3 separate regions of the Homo sapiens genome follow, and regions 2 and 3 are each linked to region 1. The links come from fine-mapping of genetic effects on gene expression. A gene starts in region 1. Each other region holds a variant in brackets. All regions are shown on one strand. Distances are from middle to middle.

Region 1 (6,237 bases):
TTTAATATGTGTATATTTTTTACATTTTAAGTTAATTGATAAATTTCATTGACAAATGAATAAATTTAATTAACAATTTATATTTAGTATAAATTAATCAATAAGTATACAAATAACAAACTGAGATACATAAATTATTAGCCCCTTCCAAAAACAACCCAAGGCCAGGAGTAGTGACACACATCTGTAATCCCAACACTTTATGAGACAGAGGTGGGCGGATCATTTGAGGTCTGGAGTTCAAGACCAGCCTGGCCAACAGGGTGAAACCCCGTCTCTATTCAAACCACAAAAATCAGCTGGGCTTGGTGGTGTGCACCTGTACCCCCAGCTACTTGGGAGGCTGAGGTAGGAGAATTGTTTGAACCCGGAAGGCAGAGGTTGCAGTCAGCCAAGATCATGTCACTGCACTCCAGCCTCGGCAACAGAGCAAAACTCCCTCTCAAACAAAAACAAAAAGAACCAAAAATATACAGTTTTCCAAAACTAGGAAATTTCACCAAATAACTTATTTTAGAATTTAATCCAAGCAGAAGGATCACTTGAGGCCAGGAGTTTGAGACCAGCCTGGGCAACAAAGCGAGACTCCATCTCTTGAAAACATTTAAAAATTAGCTGGGCGTGGTGGCACATGCCTACAGTCCTAGCTAGTCTGGAAGCTGATGCAAAAGGATCACTTGAGCCCAGGAGTTCAAGGTTACAGTGAGCCATGATCGGGTCACTGCACTCCAGCCTGGGTACAGAGTAAAACCTTTAGCTCTGAAAAAAAAAAAAAATTTAATCAACTCTGAATGGGTAAGAGAGAATTTAACCAGTTTATGAACAGCAGGTGCTAAGTTCATAACTGTCTAGTCACAACTCATTGTTTCACAAAATCAATTTTGTGGGTTACAATTACAATTTATAAATAAAACAGAATAGAAAATAAATTTCAGGATGCATTGCCTGTACTACACACTATATCATGAACTGGTTTTAAATACAGATGTATGTGCTTGTGTAAGTGTACTGAGTACTGGTGTAAAATGTACTGCATACCATGTGTAAGTATGCTAATGGTGTCAAAAGAAGCAGTCCCTATCCTTGAATGATTTTCAGATATAGCCCCTGAAAAGGAAAGTCTCCTTAGCGATGGCAAAAACGTCTTAGAATGTAATCCCTGGACCTCCTGCATGAAAATTATCCAAGAGCTGTCAAAAAAGATTTAAAACACCAAGCGTTGTAAAATACATTATTTACAATAAAAGCAAAGTGTAAACAAAATGTTTTCCTAAAAACATTTAGAAGGTATGACTACACCCAAATACATGCCCATGCAGAGATAACCAGACAGCTATGGGTATAAAATACTTGGCTATTCATCAACACTGAAAGCATTTTCTGAAAGGCAGCATAAGAAGCCACTTTATCAATACAGATATGAAAGTACATAGGAATTAATTGACAGAATTCCAGTTTGTAACGTTTAATATATAACTCAAATAATTCATGCATTAGGGCCTTTCCAGGTATAAGGTACTACCAGTGGAGAATCAAAGGTGCATAATGTCAAGATCCCTGCACTTGGAGGTTACAGAGGTCACCCACTGGTGAGAAACTAATGTAAAATCTCACTGCACAGCATCTATGTTGGTATGAATGGTTTGTTTTAATTTTTTGTACTTTAAAAAATGGGGCTATTTCACATAACAATTTTCCATTTTGCCGCTCCTGAAATACAGGCAACTTTCCCACTGGCCGGTCCACTTCGGAATTCTCTGCTCTCCAGTTCCTCAGATGTGCCCATCCTACTCCCATTTTCTTTCTCCATCATACGCCTGACCCCTGTGCGCATTTGAGCTTACAACCTCTGCCAAGACTCCAGTGGATTTCGAGAACAGATTGTGACTTGCTAAGCATACAAACTCCAACGGGGAAGGGCTCTTATCAGACGCCCTCTTTAAAGAAGGTCCTCTCACGAACTTAAAATCTTACGACAGAGGGAAACAAACACTGAACGACCGAATGACTTTTCAGGAGCTGACATCTCTGCGCTTCAGGGGGCGAATTCCAGCCCCCGCCCCTCGCGGCTTTTCAGTCCTTTAAAAGACTAGGCAAAGATCTAAGAGAGTTAATTGCAGGAAGAGTAACAATCGATGCCCACAGATAAGGGTCAGGGAGAACTTTCACCCAGTTTTGCAATCAGCAGCCCAGCCTGGCCTCTCCTCTCAGGCAGGACCTTGGGAAGCCCACACCGGGGTGCTGGGGAGAAGCGGGCTGTACCTGCTTGAGAGACCAGGTGTTTCCGGCTCTTTCCTCCTCAAGAGATGCGGTGCCTCAAGAATAACCATTCCCCTCCCCACCACCTCAGCGGGGTGACCTCAGCTGCGGCTGCGCGCGTATGCCGGCCCGAAAAGAGCAGCCAGCTGCGCCTCAGCAAGGGGCGCGGCCTCCAACCTTCGCATGCTCACCTGCCCCCGCGCCGGTGACCAGTACCACCCGCCCGTCGAACCTCAGCGGTGAGCCCATGAATAAGGCCTGCAACGACACACACACGAACAAGCAGAGCCGCTGGACGCCGACTGCGGGACAGGAGGAGGCGGGGAATGGCGGGGGCGGGACGAGGGTCAGTGACTTGCCGATTTCTGGTAGGAAGATGAGCGCAGAGCGCGCGGCTCCCTTGGAATCCTGGGAAATGTAGTTAAGAGTGACTCCACTCGCTGGAAGACTTGCCTTCCAGGGGCCATTTCTGCGGCTGGAAGCAATGGGAGCTGCTAGGACTTGTGTAGAAGAATAGTTAACTCGACACCTTGCGTTCATCTATTCACCTGTCGTTTCATCATTCACTCAATAAACGTTTTCTGGGTTTAGTTGCTGACCTAGAGAAACAGCATGCGGCCCCTATCCTTGAGGGGCTTCCAGAGATAGCCCCTGGGAAGGAAAGTCCCCCTTAGGGATGGTAAAGATTTGTCAGTGTAATAATCCCTGCACTTCTACATGCAAACATCAGGGGACTGTCAAAATGCAGAGTCCTGGACCCCCACTGCTTACCTCCCAAAATAGAATCTCAAGGGGCAAAAACATTTTGACAAGTGTTCCTAAATGATCTTGCGTTTGTATGTTGAGAACAGTCATAGTTCAATCAACATTTACTGAGCATCTCCTGAGTTTTGATAGGATCCTCAAGCTACTCAGAGTCAGATGGTAAACTTTCAATAACGGTGCAGCCTAGACTTGTGACCAATGTGTGTAAGTGAGCTAATGGTGTCAAAATAAACAGACCCTATCCCCGCTGGGGAGAAAGAGGAAAAACTTTCTGAAGGAGGACCAGGACCTAAAGTGGCGACCCCTGCAAAGAAAGAAGGGCATTACAGGCAGCACAAACACTAGCTAGGTTTGGGGAGAAAGAGGGTAAAGCCACAAAAGCAAAGCCAGCAAGATCATGTTTAGATGTTTGAATTTTGTGCTGAAAACGGTTTTAAGTAGGATTACTCCAGAGAGTGGTGGGAACACATTTACACTATGGAAAGATCACTTTGCCCATTATGGAGGATTGATTGGATGTTGCGGGAAGTCATGGACCCCAAACAGAGGGACCTGCTAGAGCCGCAGCAGAGGAACATAAATTGTGAAGATTTCACGGACATTTATCAGTTCCCAAATAATACTTTTATAATTTCTTATGCCTGTCTTTACTTTAATCTCTTAATCCTGTTATCTTCGTAAGCTGAAGGTGTACGTCACCTCAGGACCACTGTGATAATTGTGTTAACTGTACAAATTGATTGTAAAACATGTGTGTTTGAACAATATGAAATCAGTGCACCTTGAAAAAGAACAGAATAACAGCAATTTTTAGGGAACAAGGGAAGTCAACCATATGGGCTGACTGCCTGCGGGGTTGGGCAAAAACAGCCATATTTTTCTTCTTGCAGAGAGCCTATAAACGGACGTGCAAGTAGGGAAGATATCACTAAATTCTTTTCCTAGCAAGGAATATTAATATTAATACCCTGGTAAAGGAATGCATTCCTGGGGGGAGGTCTATAAACGGCTGCTCTGTCTTATGTGGTTGAGATAAGGACTGAGATATGCCCTGGTCTCCTGCAGTACCCTCAGGCTTACTACGGTGGGGAAAAACCCGGCCCTGGTAAATTTGTGGTCAGACCAGTTGTCTGCTCTCGAACCCTGTTTCTGTTGTTTAAGATGTTTATCAAGATAATACATGCACTGCTGAACATAGACCCTTATCAGTAGCTCTGCTTTTGCCCTTTGTCTTGTGATCTTTGTTGGACCCTTATTAGTAGTTCTGCTTTTGCCCTTTGTCCTGTTCCCTCAGAAGCATATGATCTTTGTTCTGCTTTTTGCCCTTTGAAGCATGTGATGTTTGTACCTACTCTCTGTTCTTACACCCCCTTCCCTTTTGCAACCCTTAATAAAAAACTTGCTGGTTTGAGGCTCAGGTGGGCATCACGGTCCTACTGATATGTGATGTCACCCCCGGCAGCCCAGCTGTAAAATTCCTCCCTTTGTACTCTTTCTCTATTTCTCAGCTGACTGACACTTATGGAAAATAGAAAGAACCTATGTTGAAATATTGGGGGCAGGTTCCCCCAATAATTAGAGGTGGGCAAGGAGAACATAGAAAAGATTTGGGGGAAATTATGGAAACCAGAAGTAAGGCAGAGGAAATGTTGAAGAAGAAATGTTGAGATAAACTGTATTTGCAAATGGAACTGACAGGGATAGAAGGCAGGGAAATTCTGGGCAGAAGAGGGCAGGTCCCCAGTGAGGGCTCCAACCTCAAGCCTGAAAACACAGCCCAAAGTGAGAACATGCATCCCTGTTTTCCCTCTTGAATGTTGCCTTTTCCAAAACCACCTATGGTCCCCCTGCCCCCCATCCTGTGCCCATAAAAACCCCAGGCTCCAATGGCAGAGAGGAGAGGAGAGAAGAAACAGCTCGACTTCAGAGGTATGGCTTAATGGCGTTGCTCCTGGGGAAGATCACCTTCTCACTCCATCCCCTTTTCAGCTCCCCTTCCCATTGACAGCCACTCTCATCGGCAATAAAATCCTCTGCATTCACCATTATTCAATTTGTTCCTGTGACCTGATTTTTCCTGGATGCCAAACAAGAGCTCAGGTGCCACAGGTGTGACACTAAAGGCTGTCACACTGACCCTCTGCCCTCACTGGCAGAGAGCAAGTGCCTCACACCAAAAAACAGAGGGCCTACTGAGCTGTTTAACATTTAAGCCATCAGTGGATGGCAAAGTTAAAAGAGCACTGTAACACACACCCTCTGGGGCTTCAGGGGCCTTAGGTACCCCTCTAGACACTGCCAAGGGCCACATAGAGTTTTGCTCCTGCATGCACTGGCCCCAGCTCCTGCACCCACTCACCTGTGCTCCCCGTTCCTGTGGAACGCAGTGGGACCCAGTGAATGGAGTCCACCCCTGCCAGACCCAAAGCGGCCAGCTAGTTCTAGATCCTATGTGCTCCAGTTCCTGCCCCCACCCATGAAGGGGTCAGGAAAATTTCCTGCTTCAGAACTAGTCTTTTTGATTAATTAGATGTAGATATGAGAAAAGAGCAACTGAAATAATCCTATATTTTGATTTGAAAATCTAGATTACGATGGGCCATTCATCAAAATAAATAGTGGAGAAAGAGTGGCTTTGGAGGGGTTATGGCTTCAATTTTAGACAAACTGCATCTGTGAAGGGGAAGCAAAACTATGGCTAGAGACACCTAGCAGACAGCTATGGTTCCAGAGCTCTGACAGCTTGGTTTCTGTTATAAATAAAGTTTTGGTGCCACAGAAGAAATAGCACTCGAATATAAAATTTTTTTTTCTTCTCAGCAACGCAGTTTACTTCTATAGAAGGTTGCACTCTCACAGATGGAGCAATGGTGAGCGCACACCCGGACAAGGGAGGGGAAGGGGTCCTTATTCCTGATGCATGTGGCCCCTGCTGCTGTGTCATTCCCCTATTGCCTAGGGTTAGTCCACACAGGTTAAACTAATTCCAGTTGGCTAATTTAAAGAGAGTGACAGGGTGAGTGGTTTGGCAGGAAAAATGGTTATGACAGAGAGGACATCGGAATGAGCCAGGGTAGAGAATGAGCAGGTAATCAGAATGAGACAGGGTGGAGCAGGTAATCGGAAAAGGTTGCTTTACGAGGAAGTTAAGTTTCAAAGTAGAAGGCAAAGAATTGAATACACTGACATACTGATTCTTTTAAAAGAAATTTA
Region 2 (6,237 bases), 38 kb before region 1:
CAAATTTGGAGTTCACAAGGTTTGAGAGATGGGGTAGGAGAGGGTTGAAGCCAAGTAAATTTACTATTTAACTATTTAAAATATTTAATTTAAATAGTTATTTAAAATAACTATTTAAAATAATTTTACTATCTAAAATAACTATTGGGCTAAAGCGGAATAATTCCCATAGATCAGCTGCAATTTCTGTCCCAGTAAGTTGTCCAATGTGATTCCTCACTCCCCTTGACGTCTCCTGCTTCATGGAAGAAAATAATTACATGGGAAAATTGGAGAACTTGCCTGCTGCTCTAGAATAGGCTCAACCCATCTTTTTCCAAAACAGCTCTCCCTCCCACTCACTTCTCTGCTGAAACAGCAAGAACGAGCATGTGGGAAGTCAAAGACATGGGAGGATGATTATCAATATATGCTGTCTGAAGGAATAGCCAGTTCTGAATAAAACAGGACAAGTCCTGAATAAGGACTACCTACAGGAAGAATAGATAGGGTCTTGAAAGGGCCACAGACCTATAGGACAATCACAATGTTTAAAAATACCTGTTGCTATAGCAATGTTTAAGTTTGAATATGCAAGCACTATATCCAATGGTTAGGCATTTGACAAAAATCTTACCCATCTCAACTGGATATGTAGGTTTAAAGATAAGGAAATAATCTATACAAACCAAAAACTGAGAGAGACTTACATTTTCCAATCCATCCTGCTCCAACCTACCAAAAAGAGGGGGAAAACATTATACCATCTAATGTGAAATCACTAATACAATTGTTTTAATTAGAAAAAAGTCAGCTCCTCTACTAGCAGTATTAGAATTCAAGGCAACAGGAGATGAAAATAATACAGCTCTGTAAGAGTCCACTGGCCCCCATGACTTTGCACTGCTCATGTTATCGGAGCACAAACGTAAAACAGTACAATGAAGTAGAAATGCATGTAATAGAAAAGAATGAATCTGATGTCAGAGACCAAGGCTTGATACAAATTTGTCTACTGACTACCCTGGCCAAATTATGTGATCCAAGTTTCCTCAAATGTAAAATAAAAATGACAGTACATATTTCATGTGGTTACCATGAAGCAAACAATATAAATAGTACACTGCCTAGCATATCATGAGATCCAAATAAATGTCCCTCTTGAAGGACCTACTGAATTACAAAGAAAACCAAAGCCAAATAAAATGAGTATTTGACTTAGTGAACTACATATACTCATTTTAATGAAACATCTTTATGCAGAGATAAGACAAATGACCAAATAATAACTGCTACCCAGAAAGATAAATTTTCACTGCTATAATTTTTTCTAGAGGTCATTCAAGAAAAATCCTAAAAAAAAAAAAAAAAAAGTCTGATGAGTCTGATGTAAAGAAAATCTGTTTGTCACTTCAAACACCACAACTACAGTGTACCCAAACTTACCACAAAAATTTCATATGCATATGATAGAAGAAATGTATCAGCAGACATCTTAGTGGCTCTAAGTTCAAGGGTGTGGCTTTTCATCATCCTTTGCCTCTATATTAATATGCCTACACCTTTTATGATACAACCAGTCAGCCTTGATAAAGTTACACTAGACAAATCAGCAGTGGTTTTGATAACAGGCAAAATAACTACCACTTTTTACTGTATTTTGGAAGCGAAGTAATAAGCTACAAGTTCCTCTCAGGTGCTAAAAACAATTGCTCCAGCTGAGCCAAAAAATATTTGTATCTGCCACTCTAGATATCTATCAGAACTTCAAAAAGTGGCAATTTACTTTCAAGGTTTAAGTCAGGATATTATGCACAGCTCTTAGTATAGTTTATCAATCATGCATGCTAAATGTTCCTCACTAAAAATGTTCACAATATAGTAAAAGAAAACAGCAACATAACAAAACTTCATCTGCAGCATTATCCTAATTGTCTGTGTGTTTGGGTGTATAAAACGCCTATCTAGGCCAGGTGCGGTAGCTCACGCCTATAATCCCAGGACTTTGGGAGGCCAAGGCGGGCAGATTATTTGAGGTCAGGAGTTCCAGACCAGCCTGACCAACATGGTGAAACCCATCTCTACTAAAAATACAAAAATTAGCTGGGTTTGGTGGTGGGTGCCTGTAATCCCAGATACTCAGGAGGCTAAGGCAGGAGAATCACTTGAGTCCGGGAGGCGGAGGTTGCAGTGAATGAACCAAGATCACGCCACTGCACTTCAGCCTGGGCAACAGAGAAAGACTCTGCCTCAAAAAAAATAAAAATAAAAAATAAAACACATATCTAATAAAAGACTGGAAGGAAAAACATAAAAATATTCATACTAGTTCTCTCTGGATAGTGATAATGTAGGCAATTTTTATTTTATTTTTTATATGGTCTTATATATTCGAAATTTTCACAAACAGCACATATTATTTTTGTTCACAAAGTTAGTAATAAACATAACTGTAAAAGATAAATAGTTTTTAAAAATTCCTTAATGAGGTAAAAGTAGAGCAGGCAAAATTCTGAATTACAGATGGCTTGAGATTATTAAATTTTCCTCTTCTATAAAACAGAGTTGTAAAGTTCTTTCTACCTCTACTATGCCACAATTCACACCCAATGGCTGTGATTAGGAAAGTGGAGGTGCATATATCTGCTCAGAGATATGCAAACTGTTTTTTTTGTCTTAACTTACCCATCAGCTTTTCATTCAAATGAAATAAGCTAATATATCCCTCACTTTAAATTGAGCCAGGTTTACAACAGGTTCTGTATACAACAGGTTCATTATTACCACAGATAATTTAAAATGGGGGGGGGTCTAATATACAACAGTTTAGGCTAGAAAAAAGAGATCAAACTCAAATGAGTAATCAAAAATATATAAATTGGCTTTAAAAGGTCTAAAAGAACTTTCATCAAAGAGTGAACAATGGATCTCACTGCATGATGGGATTATGTGTGGATAATTATTTTTATAATAAACATTTAAAGCTCTGCAATAAAAAAAACAGAAAAGTTCATTTTTTATGTAAAAATAAATAATGTTATATTTATTGACCTATCACACAAGATTAAATTCCTGCTATACTGATAATTAAAATTGGTGGTTGAGTGCTATGTATTAGGCCTTATGCCAAGGGTTTAAAATATGACTTGTAGTTGTCACAAGAAAGCCCCAGAAAACTAAAGCTCACGAAGGTCAAATCTGCAATTCCCAGAATAAGAATTCAAAATCTGGCCTGGTTGACTCTAAACTCCAAGCTTCATCTTTCCACCTTATCATTCAGCTTCTTAAATAATGAAATTCCCCACATTTTGACCGAACAGATCAAACCAGCCACATTTTCATTTGGTAGGAATGTTACAAATGTAGAACTAAGTAAAAACAGAATTTATAAAGTTACTATTACTTTCCAAAAAATGGATATTAGTCAACACTTTTAATTATAACATAGACACAATATTTAAAAATATACAAGTGATGT[C/G]CACTGGTACAGATTTTTACAAATGTAAGCAACTGGAGAAAACTAATAAGAGAAAACAGGAAGGTGCAAATACCTCAAACAAGCCACCATTCTCCTCACAACTCTCGTGACAAAGCCAAAGGACAAGAGGTGCCACATACTCTGGCTTCAGGGCTTCCACAAGATCTGAAATAAAGAATATACACATATCTTATCAATCATTTTACTTTCTAAGAATTTCTTACTTATAAAATTATAGGTAATTCAGAGACCTTTAAAATAGGAACAAAATTAGTATGTATATAACTAGTCTAACATTTAAGTCTTTGCGAAGAACTTTTTGTAATCTCAACTGAGCCATTTCTAAAGGGCTCTCAAGCTTCTAAAATTGTAAGTATCAGACACACCTTTCCAAGATGAGTAACATATTAATACTGTTCAGAAGAAGAAAAGTTAGAACTGCCTAGACAAAGATTGGTGAGCAAAACTGTATTTAACATGAGAAATCTGGGTACCATTCATTCCCAAAATTATTCTACTCTCCCAGCTATTAACAACAATCTAGAAAATCACAAAACAGCCTAGACCATTACAGTGGCAAATAATGATTGAGAGTGCTGAATCCTAACCACTAGACCACCAGGGTAGGCAGATAATGATTGAAATAGACCTTGAAGACATCACTGGTGAGTGCACAAAGTATAAGAACTAATTTCCCACTGCATATGTTACCTTTTGAACTTTTTAAAAATTAATATATAATAGTTGTACATATTTTGAAGGTGCATGTGATATTTTGATACCTTATACAATGTGTAACGACCAAATCAGGGTAACTGGTATATCCATCAACTCAAACATTTATCTTGTCTTTGTGTTGAGAACATTATAAATCTTCTCTTCTAGCTATTTTGAAATACACAATAAATTATAGTTATCTATAATTTCTCTATTGTACTATCAAATACTAGAATTTATTCCTTCTATCTAAGCTTACTTTCGTAGCCCTTAGCCAACTTCTCTTTACCACTGCACCTTTTCTGTGAGTACCTTGGTGAAGCAGAAAGGTACTACATGAAGAACATGAAGACTTTGATTTTGGTACTGAACCTGCTATGCAAGCAACTTAGGAACCTGAGCCCATCATTCAACTTCCCTGGGCCTGTATCTTCATCAGTAAGCTAGTAATTTAAATGCTTCTGCTTCCTATTCCACCAAGTTGTTCCAAGGCTCAAATGAGATACAATTTGTGTCTTACAAATCATACAATTTTATCTAAAAGATCAAATAAATGCAAAAATTGTGAAATGACAAAATACAATTTTGTATTAATGTGTTAAAGTAAAAAAGATGGTGTATATAGTCCTGTAAATTAAAAAGTAGTTGCAAAAACTCTTCACTTTATAGCCTCTAAAAGCTCTCAAAAGTACACAAGCATTCCAATGGCACCCTGTCTTCCATTTTTCATTATATGCACGAGGAAAAAACAAAAGGAAGACTCCAACCATCTCAAATTGTACATTAAAACAAATTATTAACTTAAATATCCATTCATCTCAATACATAACATTCCTCTAATTTCCCATACATCAATTGACAAAACTAAATGTTAAAGGATATTTATGTACAGGGATTTGGATATTTGAGTTGGCTAACTTCAAACTGAATGAGAAATAAACATATCTATAAAATGCAACAGAGTATCTATTACCTTACGTGAGAAAAAAGAAAAGAACATAAGCCACATACAAAAAAATACGTCTGCCTTGCAGTTTATTTTATATATTATCACTAATAATATAAGCAAATATTCTTGCTTTCCAGTTCATTCTCAAACTCCTAGGTTAGCCAGCATCTATTAAACTCAATGTTATAAATAAAAAACCAACCTTAAGAGAGTAAATAAAAGATCAGAGAAGTCCCATAGCTATTAAGATATAAAGTTATATGAAATCAAAAATAGAAAGGTTTACTTACTCAACCCAGTGTTTCTTCCACAATACTAGATGTCAGGATATCTAGCATTACAGTGAGCCAAGTACTCTGAGGAATACTTCTGCTTCCAGAAATGAGATTCTTTTAAAGCATTACTGAGATAAAGAAGGTATCCTCCAACCAGAAAAAAAAAAAAAAAAAATAGAAAAGAGTCCCTAGTGCTACATGCTACAGGGAAGGCAGGGTTGCCCTGAGAATGATACAAATAACAATACTGATACCTAGGTACTCAGAGATAGGCCAGCATCAAGATGGGGTCCTAAACCTAAACTGTTCTACGCTGAACTTCAACTTTTAAGGAAGACTGAAGCAGAACAAAATTGGCTATGCTTCCTGGTAATCAGCAGTAGCAAAGACAGATCCTCTCTGAAGAAAACATTGCCAATTTAGAACACAGAACAAATACAGAAAAAGATCAGGTAAAGAGCTGGTAATTAGAAATCACCAAGCACACAATGAAGGGAAGCCACTATGAGTAAAAGTTAAAAGAAACAGCAGATTTGAACTACAATGGAATAGAAATGTTGGAATTTAAAATATATTATAAAGAAAAGTTAACTATTGATTAGCATTTGTACCCTTCCTGACTCAACAATTTTACTTTGAAGTACATATCCTAGAAAAATTCTTGTTCTTGTAATCCAGAACACATGTACAAGAATAAAAGCAGATTAATTAAAAAGCAACCGATATGTTCATTAATAATAATTAAGTAAATTCACATAACAGTCTTGCAGCAATATAATCGAATGAGCTACAGCTTTATATAAATCTTAGAGCCCTAAAATTGCATGGAAAGACAAAGT
Region 3 (6,237 bases), 240 kb before region 1:
AACCATATGATCATCTCAATAGATGAAAATAAAGAATTGGATAAAATTCAGCATCCCTTCATACTAAAAGCTCTCAACAAACTGGGCATAGAAAGAACATACCTCAAGGTAATAAAGACCATACACAACAAACCCACATTTAGCATCATACTGAATGGAGAAAAGTTGAAAGCCTTTTTGTAAGAACCGAAACCAGACAAGGATGCACGTTTTCACCACTCTTAATTCAACACATTACTAAAACTTTAGCCAGAGCAATCAGGTAATAGCAAGAAACAAAAGACATCCTAATTGGAAAAGAGGAATTCAAATTGTCCCTCTTTGCTGATAATATGATTTTACATCTAGAAAAACCTAAAGACTCCACCAAAAAACCTCTTAAATTTGATAAATGAATTCAATAAAGTTGAAAGATACAAATTCAACATACAAAAATCAGTAGCATTTATACACACCAATAATGATCCAGTCAAGAAAGAAATCAAGAAAGCAATCCCATTTATAATAGCTACCAAAAAAGTAAAATACCTAAGAGTAAATTTAACTAAATAGATGAAAGATCTCTACAACGAAAATTATAAAACACTGGTGAAAGAAACTGGAGATGACAAAAACAAATGGAAAAATTCTCATGCTCGTGGATCACAAGAATTAATATCATTAAATTGACCATATTCCCCAAAACAACTTAGAGATTCATTGCAATTGCTATCAAAATGCCAACATCATTCTTAAAGGAAATAGAAAAAAAATGGGCAAATAACCAACCTGGCAAACAGCCAAAGCAATTCCGAGCAAAAGGAATAAAGCTGGAAACATCAAATTACCTGACTTCAAAATATATAATAAGGCTACAGAAACCAAAACAGCATAGTACTGCTATAAAAACAGATACATAGACCAATGGAACAGAATAGAGAACTTATAAATAAAGCCACATATTTACAGCCAACTGATCTTTGAAAAAGCTGATAAAAATTTATATTGGGAACACCCCTTGTAAAGGGCCACCATTTTCAATAAATGGTACTGGGAAAATATGTTATATAACCACGTGCAGAAGAATTAAACTGTACCTCTATCTTTCAACATATACAAAAATCAACTCAGGGTGGATTAAATACTTAAACATAGGACACAAAAATATAAATATGCTGGAGAAAACCCTAGAGAACACCCTCTTGAACTTCAGTCTAGGCAAAGAATTTATGACTAAGACTTAAAAGCACAGGCAACAAAAACAAAAATAGAGAAAAGGGACTACAAATTTGAAATCTTCTGCAGAGCAAAGAAAATCATCAACCGAGTAAAGAGACAGCCTGTTGAGTGGAAGAATATATTTAGTTGGAATGCCAAGTTTGATGACACATACCATGAGGCTATGAGAAGCTTTATTACTTACCTGAGGCTTTCTGGGAAGCAGGGCTGGCTTCCCAAGCTGAACTGAAAATGGCTTGCAAGAACAGGGAAAGGAGACTGGCATGAGGTTTTTATGGTGGTTAGGGGCTGAGGCTGGCGTGAGGGTTCCTGTGCCCAGGCAGGGGCTTATGTGATTTGAACTTCCCACAGGGGCCAAAGGAGGAAGTATCCAGGCTTTCTTATCAATGTGCACAAAACTGGGGCAGAAGGGAAAGAGGGAGGGGTGGGGCTTAAGCTATCAGCAGTCAATCTTCAAAAAAATGAATCAAGCTCTTCATTACATTGGGCTGCACTTACGATCTTTTATATAAGGCTATGAGACAGAGATCTGTTACATAGATGCTGTGTGTGCCCTAATCTCCTTCAAAGAGAACATGTGGCTTAAATGGAATAAAAATAAGGGCACATCAAACTCTTTGGGGGGAAAACTACTTTTATAAATACACAGCATTATCAAAATCATTATTCCTCTTCAAGGTATTTGACTTTTTAAGTCATTTCTAAATCAGCTACGGGCAGCGATAAGGTTTGGCTTTGTGTCCCCACCCAAATCTCAAGTAGAACTGTAATCCCCACGTGTCAGGGGAGGGACCGGGTGGGAGATGATTGGATCATAGGGGTGGATTTCCCCTATGCTGTTCTCATGATAGTGAGCGAGTTCTCACAAGCTCTGATAGTTTTAAAGTGTGGCAATTTCCCCCTCACTTGCTCTCTCTTTTTCTCTCTCCTGCTACCATGTAAGATGACATGCCTTGCTTCCCCTTTGCCTTTCACAATGACTGAAAGTTTCCTGAGGTCTCTCCAGCCATGTGTAACTGTGACTCAAGCCTCTTTTCTTTATAAATTAGCCAGTCTCAGGTAGTTCTTTATAACAGTGCTGAAACAAACTAATACAGGCAGGGATATCATTTTTCTGTTTAGAAAACCAACTTTAGAAAGGCTAAGTGCTTTCACGATGTCAGAAGTATTATCAAAGGGTCAAAAGATTTTATACTTAATATCTCTCAGTCAGGACATTAAGACAACTCTCAGAGCCTTTATGTTTTATATAAAATGTTAGATTAGAGAAGCTCATTATTTAATTGAATTAATAGAAATAACCACTACATTTAAACCCTCAGAAAATAAAGCTGCAGATCTTTGTCAAACAAATGGTGATAATAATTGTAATAATAGCAGCTAACCCTTATTGAATGTCTTTAAGTTTCGAGAACTCTTCCAAAGACATTATAGTTATCCTCATAACAAGTCATTGGATTAAATATTAATATTCCAATTTTGCAATGAGGAACTTGAAGCCCAGAAAGGTTCAACAATATGACCAACATCCCA[T/G]AGTGGCTGAGTGAAGAAGTGAGAATTCAAGCATAAAGCAGGAAGACAACGCATTAGATTAAACATTTCAAAGTTGTATTTTAGTTTGGAAAACACAGATTGATTTAAACTAAAGAATAGGAAGTGCCACACTGCCTCTCATTTTAACCTAGTTAGGATAAACTTTTATTCTGTTCTATTTAATTTTTACCTCAGAATATTAGGGGTAGAGCATCCAAGAAAGTAAGTAGCCAAATGAGTAGGCATTAAACAGATTAATTATTTGAGCTTTTACAATTCAATGATCACATCAATGTCAATTTGGAATTTAGTCCTGTATGCCCTGTTGGGTCTTCAAAGCAATTTTCTTGTGCTGAAATCCATGTACAGTTATATAGTGAACTAAGAGGAGGCACTGATTTCACAAGTAACTACAGACTGATGAGTTAAAAAAAAAAAGTTCAACCACTGTTTAACTTTCAACTTTGGAGAACTTAATATAAAATGAACAGTTCTATATATGATTTATATTTCAGGGCACTCTCACACACATCTCATTTAATCTCCTCATTGACATAGTTCTAATAACAGAAAATGTACATCAACACATGTAGAGCAAATAACTTACATAATCAAACTATGTGTATGCTAATGTAAAGGAGTGTGCCAAATACATTTTATAACCCATCTTACATCCCCTTGGCCTGTCACTTTACTCAAGCCATTTATGTGGCAATCAGTGGTGCCTCAGATACATCTTGATAAAATGACCCTCAAGCTGCACTGCCTCTCATTTGTTTTCTGCCCCAGGCTTCTCTGTCCAGTGAGGTTTGGTCTATGCTGAGTCATGAGCAAACCTAGAAGTGTGAGAGCATTAACAACCCTGGAACAACCTTCGATCAAAGAGGATAGTAACTGGTAGATAAATATTTCCATCTTCCCCATGAGAGGTGCACACATCCCCATGGATGGATGATTCTGAAGCACATTGTATAGAGAAGCTTTGACCTCCATCTCCCCCCAGACGTTTTCTTAAAAATGCATCCTTAGATGGGCTGTCTTCCTTCCCATTTCACTCTTCCCAATTCATCACGCTTATTCTGCTTTATTGGATTAGGTTATGATAGTTAACAGTGTACATATATATATATACACTATATACATGGGAACTATTTCTCAAGCCATTGACATAGGATCTGCTTTATGAAGGAATTCAAGCCAAATCAGAGCATTTAAGTAACTTACAAAAGAGACTGCTAATATTAGCATTAGAATTACAAACCAGGTCTTCTATCTCCTTAGAGTATGATATGGTTTGGCTGTGCCCCCAACCCTCCAAATCTCATCTTGAACTGTAGTTCCCATAATCCCCACGTGTCAGTGGGAGGTAATTGAATCATGGGGACGGTTTCCCCATGCTGAATGAGTTCTCACAAGTTCTGATGGTTTTATAAGCATCTGGCATTTCCCCCACTGTGTCATTCTCTCTCATGCCACCCAGTGAAGAGGTGCCTTCCACCATGATTGTAATTTTCCTGAAGCCTCCCCAGCCATGCAGAACTGTGAGTCAATTAAATCTCTTTTGTTTATAAATCACACAGTCTTGGGTATTTCTTCATAGCAGCATGACAACGGACTAACACAGTACGTTGCTACTGCAGAGAATAGGACAATTATGTAAAGATACCCGAAAATGTGAAAGTGACTTTGCAATTGGGTAACACGCAGAGATTGCAACAGTTTGGAGGGCTCAGAAGAAGAAAGATGTGGGGATGTTTGGAACTTCCCAGAGACTTGTTGAATGGCCTTGACCAAAATGCTGATAGTAATACAGACAATGAAGTCCAGGCTAAGGTGGCCTCAGATGGAGGTGGGAAATGTGTTGGGAACTGGAGTAAAGGTCATTCTTGCTCTGCTTCAGCAAAAAGACTGATGGCTTTTTGCCCCTGCCCTAAAGATCTGTGGAACTTTGAACTTGAGAGAGATGATTTAGGGTACCTGGCAGAAGAAATTTCTAAGCAAAGCATTCAAGTGAAGATAGAGTATAGAAGTTTGGAAAATTTGCAGCCTGACAATGCAGAAGAAAAGAAAAACCCATTTTCTGGGGAGAAATTCAAGCTGGCTGTAGAAATTTGCTTAAGTAATGAGGAGTCAAATGCTAATCACCAAGATAATGGGGAAAATGTCTCCAGGGCATCTCAGAGAACTTGGCAGCAGCCCCTCCCATCACAGGCCCAGAGGTCTAGGAGGGAAAAATGGTTTCCTGGGCCAGGCCTAGGGTCCAGGGCCTCCCTGCTGTGTGCAGCCTCTGGACTTGGTGCCCTGCATCCTAGCTGCTACAGCCATGGCGAAAAGGAGCCAAGGTATAGCTCAGGCCATTGCTTCAGAGGATGCCAGCCCAAAGCCTTAGCAGTTTCCACACTGTGTGGGTCCTGCAGGTGCACAGTAGACAAGAACTGAGGTTTGGGAACCTCCACCTAGATTCAGAGGATGTATGGAAATGCCTAGATATCTAGTCAGCAGTCTGCTGCAGGGGCAGAGCCCTCACGGAGAACCTCTGCTAGGGCAGTGCAGAAGGGAAATGTGGGGTCAGGGTCCCCACACAGAGTCCCCAGTGGGGCACTGCCTAGTGGAGTTGTCAAAAGAAGGCCACTGTCCTCCAGACCCCAGAATGGTAGATCCACCAACAGCTTGCACCATGCACCTGGAAAAGCCACAGACAGTCAATGTCAACTATGAAAGCAGTGAGGGGGGCTGTACCCTGCAAAACCACAGAGGCAGAGCTGCCCAAGACCATGAGAGCCCACCTCTTGCATCAGCGTGCCCTGAATGTGAGACATGGAGTCAAAGATCATTTTGGAACTTTAAGGTTAAATGACTGCCCTATTGGATTTTAGACTTGCCTGGGGCCTGTAGCCGTTTTGTTTTGGCCAATTTCTCCCACTTGGAACAGGTGTATTTACCCAATGCCTGTACCCATATTGTCTCTTGGAAGGAACTAACCTGTGTTTGATTCTACTAGCTCATAAGTGGAAAGAACTTGTTTGTCTCAGATGAGACTTTGGACGTGAACTTTTGAGTTAGTGCTGGAATGTGTTAAGAATTTGGAGAGGAGGAGCCAAGATGGCCGAATAGGAACAGCTCCGGTATACAGCTCCCAGCATGAGCAACGCAGAAGACAGGTGATTTCTGCATTTCCATCTGAGGTACCGGGTTCATCTCACTAGGGAGTGCCAGACAGTGGGCGCAGGCCAGTGTGTGCGTGCACCGTGCGCGAGCCGAAGCAGGGCGAGGCATTGCCTCACCTGGGAAGCGCAAGGGGTCAGGGAGTTCCCTTTCCTAGTCAAACAAAGGGGTGACGGACGCACCTGGAAAATCGGGTCACTCCCACCCGAATATTGCGCTTTTCAGACTGGCTTAAGAAACGGCGCACCACGAGACTATATCCCACACCCGGCTCAGAGGGTCCTACGCCCACGGAATCTCGCTGATTGCTAGCACAGCAGT

Which allele goes with the higher level. Alleles are on the strand shown, and positions count from the first base shown. SD is a standard deviation of normalised expression in the study named. Not every link is listed here.
For the expression in Th1/17 cells of the gene that starts at base 2,587 in region 1, G is the high allele of the variant in region 2 and C is the other (large effect, 0.91 SD a copy in Schmiedel 2018).

Evidence for each region. PIP is the estimated chance that this variant, and not a neighbour inherited with it, causes the effect. A credible set is the group of variants that fine-mapping cannot tell apart.
Region 2: its variant is the best candidate, but not a certain one, in a credible set for the expression of HSD17B4 in Th1/17 cells (Schmiedel 2018, PIP 0.75).
Region 3: its variant is the best candidate, but not a certain one, in a credible set for the expression of HSD17B4 in stomach (GTEx, PIP 0.56).

Annotation. Positions count from the first base shown.
Region 1 is chr5:119,448,847-119,455,083 of GRCh38, reverse strand. It overlaps HSD17B4 (hydroxysteroid 17-beta dehydrogenase 4), which reads right to left and starts at 2,587. Exons shown (of 24, transcript NM_000414.4): 1 at 2,451-2,587. The coding sequence starts at 2,508. RefSeq lists an enhancer at 2,437-2,486.
Region 2 is chr5:119,486,577-119,492,813 of GRCh38, reverse strand. HSD17B4 (hydroxysteroid 17-beta dehydrogenase 4) reads right to left here. Exons shown (of 24, transcript NM_000414.4): 9 at 3,531-3,622; 10 at 690-714. Among named protein-coding and RNA genes, the nearest start is that of HSD17B4, 37 kb to the right of the region's middle. The variant C/G (reference allele first, on the strand shown) is at 3,458.
Region 3 is chr5:119,690,419-119,696,655 of GRCh38, reverse strand. No RefSeq gene overlaps it. Among named protein-coding and RNA genes, the nearest start is that of FAM170A, 64 kb to the right of the region's middle. The variant T/G (reference allele first, on the strand shown) is at 2,752.